Linked DNA regions of Homo sapiens: region 1 is linked to region 2. Evidence: fine-mapped expression QTL. A gene starts in region 2. The other region holds a variant in brackets. All regions are shown on one strand. Distances are between the middles of the regions.

Evidence for each region. PIP is the estimated chance that this variant, and not a neighbour inherited with it, causes the effect.
Region 1: its variant is fine-mapped to the expression of THAP8 in atrial appendage (GTEx, PIP 0.99).

What each region holds. Positions count from the first base shown.
Region 1 is chr19:35,518,761-35,521,668 of GRCh38, reverse strand. No RefSeq gene overlaps it. Among named protein-coding and RNA genes, the nearest start is that of DMKN, 6.6 kb to the right of the region's middle. The variant C/A (reference allele first, on the strand shown) is at 1,576.
Region 2 is chr19:36,052,723-36,055,630 of GRCh38, reverse strand. THAP8 (THAP domain containing 8) reads left to right here and starts at 1,346. Exons shown (of 4, transcript NM_152658.3): 1 at 1,346-1,496. The coding sequence starts at 1,414. WDR62 (WD repeat domain 62) reads right to left here and starts at 734. Exons shown (of 32, transcript NM_001083961.2): 1 at 483-734. The coding sequence starts at 659.

The DNA.
Region 1 (2,908 bases), 530 kb after region 2:
TCGTCACCGTTGTATGGATGAGGATGCTGCGGCTCAGTGGGACAAGGGCGCCCACAGAGAAAGCAGCAGGCCTGGGTCTGGCTCCGTCTGTCGCCAGCACCTGACTTCTCGTGGTTCCCGGTGAAGTCTCTGTAACACTCCCAGGCACTAGCCTGGGTGCTGGGAGACTTGCGTTCCAATCGGGAGCAAGATGCCTGAAGGCCGCCTACTTCCCCTCTAGGGGCCACGATTTCCTCCTGTATAAAGGGAGGCAGGGATTCGACAACTGTTGCTTCCAGCTACAAAATTCCATCAATGGGGGACTGAAAATAATAGACAGTGTTCTTGCCCTTGGGGAATTCACAGCCTTCCTGGGAGGCAAGGCCTATAAACAGAATGTGAATGCAAACACACAAAGCCACGCATCAATAAGAGCTCAATGACCGGCAAGGGGAGGGGCCTGCATTTGTGCAAAAAATGGGACGTTCCTCACTTTATAGTCACTGCATTTTCCCTTATTTTGTGGAATACCATCATTTCATTACATATGCTCCTTCCCTCCCCCTGCGATATTTTATTTTGAAAACATTTCAAGCATCATGAAAAGATGAAAGAATTTTATAGTGAACACCAGAATTCTCACCACTTAGATTTTACCATACTTGCTTGGTCACACATCTGTCCATTTAGCCCCATATCAAACATTTTTGATGTATTTCAAAGTAAACTGTAAACATTATATTTGCTGCATTTTGTCTTATTTATTTTTTGAGACAGAGTCTTGGTCTATCGTTCAGGCTGGAGTGCAGTGGCACAGTCATGGCTAACTGCAGCCTCAATCTCCTGGGCTCAAGCAATCCTCCCACCTCAGCCTCCCAAGTAGCTGGGACTACAAGCACACACCACCATGCCTGGCTAATTTTGTAATTTTTTTTTGTAGAGACGAGGGTCTCATAATGTTGCCCAGGCTGGTCTTGAAATCCTGAGCTCAAGCAATCCTCCTGCCTCAGGCTCCCAAAGTGCTAGGAATACAGGTGTGAGCCACAGCACCCAGCTGCTTGCTGCACTGATATAAATAGAACCTTCCATTCATGTCAGATACTGATTGAGGGTCTGCTCCGTGCTGGACATCATCTCACAGGTATTGGGGGAGGCCCTACTTAAAAGAATCCTATAGTGGCGGCTTTCGAAAAGGCAACATTCAAGGGACTCTTTCTTTCTTGAAGTAAAAGCTTTCATTGACTTTATTTTTATTTAAAAAAATATACATATATGTGTGTGTATATATATACGTGTATATATATGTATATATGTGTATGTATATATATATATTGAGACAGAGTCTTGCTTTTTCATCCAGGCTGGATTGCAGTGGGGTGATATCGGCTCACTGCAACCTCTGCTTCCCAGGCTCAAGCAATTCTCCTGCCTCAGCCTCCCTTACAGGTGCGCGCCACCACACCCAGCTAATTTTTGTATTTTCAGTAGAGACGGGGTTTCACCATGTTGGTCAGGCTGGTCTTGAACTCCTGACTTCAGTTGATTCGCCCGCCTTGGCCTCCCAAAGTATTGGGATTACAGGCGTGAGCCACCGCG[C/A]CTGGCCATCACCCGGCTGACTGACTATTTTTTAGGCACATTTTCTTGCTGGGTTTGCTTGGATGGGGGTCCTGAAAATACCAAAGAGATACAAGATAATTGATAGGCACTGAGTCAGTCCTGGGAAGCTTCTGAAAAAGGAGAGCTTTGAGTCGGTTTTGAGGGTAAAAGACGCCTGGCTCTCTCCTGCCTGGAGGTCTTCTGTGCTGTTCCCTCTACTAGGAACACTCTCCATGCCCCTCGGCCCCTCATACTGGCTCTTCCCTACCCTTTGCATCTCAGCTACCTTGACCGCTCAACCTGAGCTACGGCCACCCTGTCACTCTCTCTCATAGCGCTGATCTTGTTTTTCTTGTTGGTTATGACAATCTGTAATCATATTACAAATATCGTATCCATTTCCCCCCAGACAAAGAGGTTCAAGCAGTGATGTCAAGGCCAGGCATGAATGTCTGGCAAGGAGCAGAAGGGAAGCCACTGACTTGAGCAGGTTGGGAAGGGCCATGGAACGAGTGTGAGCAAGACACAGGCTGCTTTGCCTGAGATGGGTGGAGCCAGGCTAGGGAGAAACACAGAGAGGAAGGGCCGGTTTCTGAGGATGTTGAAGAACAGGGAGAGGAGTTTGGGTGTGGCTCTCACCGGGCATCTTTTACAGGGTCTGTGCTAAGCACTTACAGGCATGATTCATTTCATCCCCACAACCATCCGGGAGGCAAGTACCATGATCATTGCCCTCACAGATGTTGAAGAAGAGGTGCACGGAACGGAGCGTGTTGCCTGAGGCCACCCTGCTAGTCAGTGGTGATGGCCAGGCTCCAGTTCAAGGGCACTTCCCTGCTGAACATCTCTAGCAGTGAGGTGGCATGCTGCCCTTGCGACCCCCAGGAAGCGGGAGGGGGCTACATCCAAATGAGTGGGTTTTTTTTTTTTTTTTTTTGACAGAGTCTTGTTCTGTTGCCCAGGCTGGAGTGCAGTGGTGCGATCTTGGCTCACTGCAACCTCCGAACCCCGGGTTCAGGAGATTCTCCTGCCTCAGCCTCCTAAGTAGCTGGGATTACAGGCGCACACCACGCCTGGCTAATTTTTGTATTTTTAGTAGCCATGAGGTTTCACCATGTTGGCCAGGCTGGTCTCGAACTCCTGACTTTAGGTGATCTGCCTGCCTTGGCCTCCCAAAGTGCTGGGATTACAGGTGAGAGCTACCCTCTCCTGGCTCCAAATGAGTGTTCTTTAAAAGTAAGTTTCTGCATCTGGCATTTTTTTTTTAATTGAGGCAGGGTCTCACCCTGTTGTCCAGGCTGGAGTGCAGTGGCGTAATCATGGCTCACTGCAA
Region 2 (2,908 bases):
CCACCTTGGTGAGGAAAAAGGATAGAGATCGCAGAAGGTGAGAGAAGGCGGGGTAGAAGCGAGGAAGAGTTGGGGCAGGTAACACTCTGGACCGAACCCTCGAAGGGACCTTAATGACTCAGCGGGGGCCAGGGCAGTGAGGCTGCAGTGAGCTATGATCGTGACGTCTAAAGGCGATAGAACGGGGGTTAAAATATAGCAGGACTAGGCTGTGATTTACAGAAGCAAAATGCATTTCCACGGGTGGGAACCAGCGAGGAACCCCCGAATTGCTCCAACGCTGAGGGTGGAGCCGGGAAAGCAGCGAGGAGAAAGTGGGAGGGGCCGTGGCTAAAGGGGCGGGGGTTAGGGGACGAGGCATGGCAGGGAACAACCTGAGGGGACTGGCCGGGGGCTGATGTCGGGGCCACAGTTCTCAGGACGGGACTAGGGGAAACCTAGGAAGCCTGGAACTGGGGTAGACATGGCGAGCAGCTTCTCACCCGGTTCTGCACCGTCTCCTCGGAGGCCGTCGAGAGTCGCGTCCGCCGCCGTAGGCAGATTGGTGGGGCGGGGGGCGGGGAGGACTGGCCCCTCCGCGCCGGAACTCCCGCCATGACAGAGGGCAGCTTCTCCCCTGCATCGTTCCGCGCATAGCCTCCGGACCCTACGGCCGCCATCGTCACGCCGGAGGCGGGCGACCGTTACATCCCCTAACCGCCGCTGCCGCCACCGCCACGACCCACTGGAACAGCGAACAGCCGCGGGAAAGCCGGCGCCACCGCCTATTGGACGCGACGGGCCCGGCCTAGCCAATCGCAGGGATGCCGGGCGGCGCTTAGAACCAATGGGGGCGAAGAGGCGGAGCGAGTGCCTGGCGGGGCGGGGCCACAGCCAGTGTACTGGATGCCTGATTAAGCGTCATGGGGTCTTTCATCCAGACTGCGTTTTCATTATTCGCTGAAACATACAGGTTTTAATTTTTACGAGGCTAAGGCCACGGCCGCCTCACCTCGGTTTTTGCCGCCACCTAGAGGAACTATGTGCGCCCCAACGGTTGCCCGGATGTAGGCGTAGGGTGGAGCCGTAAGAGATTGACTAGCCAGTTGATTTGGTTGGCGCAGGCTCAGAAACGCCGTGACGCCGCCCTTCCCCCCAACACGTGATGAAAGTCGGGGTGACGAAGGGCCGGCTTTGCGCAGGTGCACAGTACTCGCTATGGCCCATTCGTCACGTGACGAGGGCGGGACTGTGGCACTGTGGAGGGGCGCCTAGTAGGCAGGCGCTCTCAGCTCTCTCCCCGGTACGTGACGAGACTCCACGGACGTCACGTGAGGCAGGCGGCGAGCGCGGGTGGGGCGGGGTTAGGCGGCGCTCCGCGAGAACCAAAGTGCAGCCGCTGACCCGGCAAAACTCAGCGGGGGCTGGATAGCCATGCCCAAGTACTGCAGGGCGCCGAACTGCTCCAACACTGCGGGCCGCCTGGGTGCAGACAACCGCCCTGTGAGCTTCTACAAGTGAGCGCAGCGCGGGGCGGGGCTTGAGGGAGGCGGGACCCTGAGAGGGGTGGGGCCCGAGCATTAGTGCTGCTGTGCGGGGCTTCTGGTCTTGCTTGAGGGTGTTAGGAAGTGGGGTTAAACCATGAGGAGATGGCCTTCCTGGCAGTGTCCATTGCACATACAAAGGTGCAGGCGTGGGAAACAGGAGTAGACGATTGACTACAGATAGCGAGCGAAGCGAGCCGAAGAGTGAAAGGGATGTAAGAAGTGAAGTCGGTGCAGGCTGTTAGAGAGCCTGCAGATGCCCACTTGCCCTCCCCACGCATTTGAGCCATCTGAAACTCAGAGCATCCGAAACTGAGCTTGCGATCGTGTCTCCCCAAAACCTTCCAGTCTGTCTTATCTTAGTAGCGTGCTTCATTCTTCTTGTTGCTTAGGTTTAAAAAATGTCATCCTTACCTCTTTCGTCATACTTGGGAAAGTCAGAATTAGCTTCGACTGTAAAAGATCTGTCTCCTTATTTATCTGGCTGACATAAGCCAGTTGGTGGAAGAATTACTAGGAAAAAACATTTCTTTGCTTTTTTTTTTTTTTTTTTTTGAGACAAGATCGCTTTGTCGCCCAGGCTGGAATGCAGTGGAACGATCACAGCTCACTGCAACCTCGACCTCCCGGGCTCAAGTGATCCTCCCACCTCACCCTACCAAGTAGCTGGGACCAGAGGCACGCGCCACCATGCCTGGATAATTTAAATTTTTTTTTTTTTTTTTTTTTTTTTTTTTTTTTGCCAGGCTTGGTGGCTCACGCCTGTAATCCCAGCACTTTGGGAGGCCGAGGCGGGCAGATCACCTGAGGTCAGGAGTTCGAGACCAGCCTGGCCAACATGGTGAAACCCCGTGTCTACTAAAAATACAAAAATTAGATGGGCGTGGTGGCTCATGCGTGTAATTCCAGCTACTCCGTGGGCTGAGGCAGGAGAATCGCATGAATCCAGAAGGCAGAGGTTGCAGTGAGCCAAGATGAGGCCACTGCAATCCAGCGTGGGCAACAAGAGTGAGACTCCGTCTCAAAAAAAAAAATTTTGTTTTTAAAGAGAGAGATGGGATCACCCTATGTTGTCCAGTCTAGTCTCAAACTCCTGGGCACAAGCAGTCCTCCTGCCTCGGCCTCCCAAAGTGCTTGGATTACAGGCGTGAGCCACTGCACCCAGCCAGGAAAAAATATTTCTCTTGGACATACTGCAGATGTAAAGTGGCAGAATTCCCATCCTTTGAGTGTCTACTGCTTTCTTAGTAGGAAACTTTGGTTGTCTAAAGTCAGAGATGATCACAAACTTTGCTGTTTGAAATCACATCAAGTAAGAATGAAACATCTCACTTTTGCTTGGAGGAGCTAAGTCACTTTGACACAGAAAAGCAGTCCCTATTTAC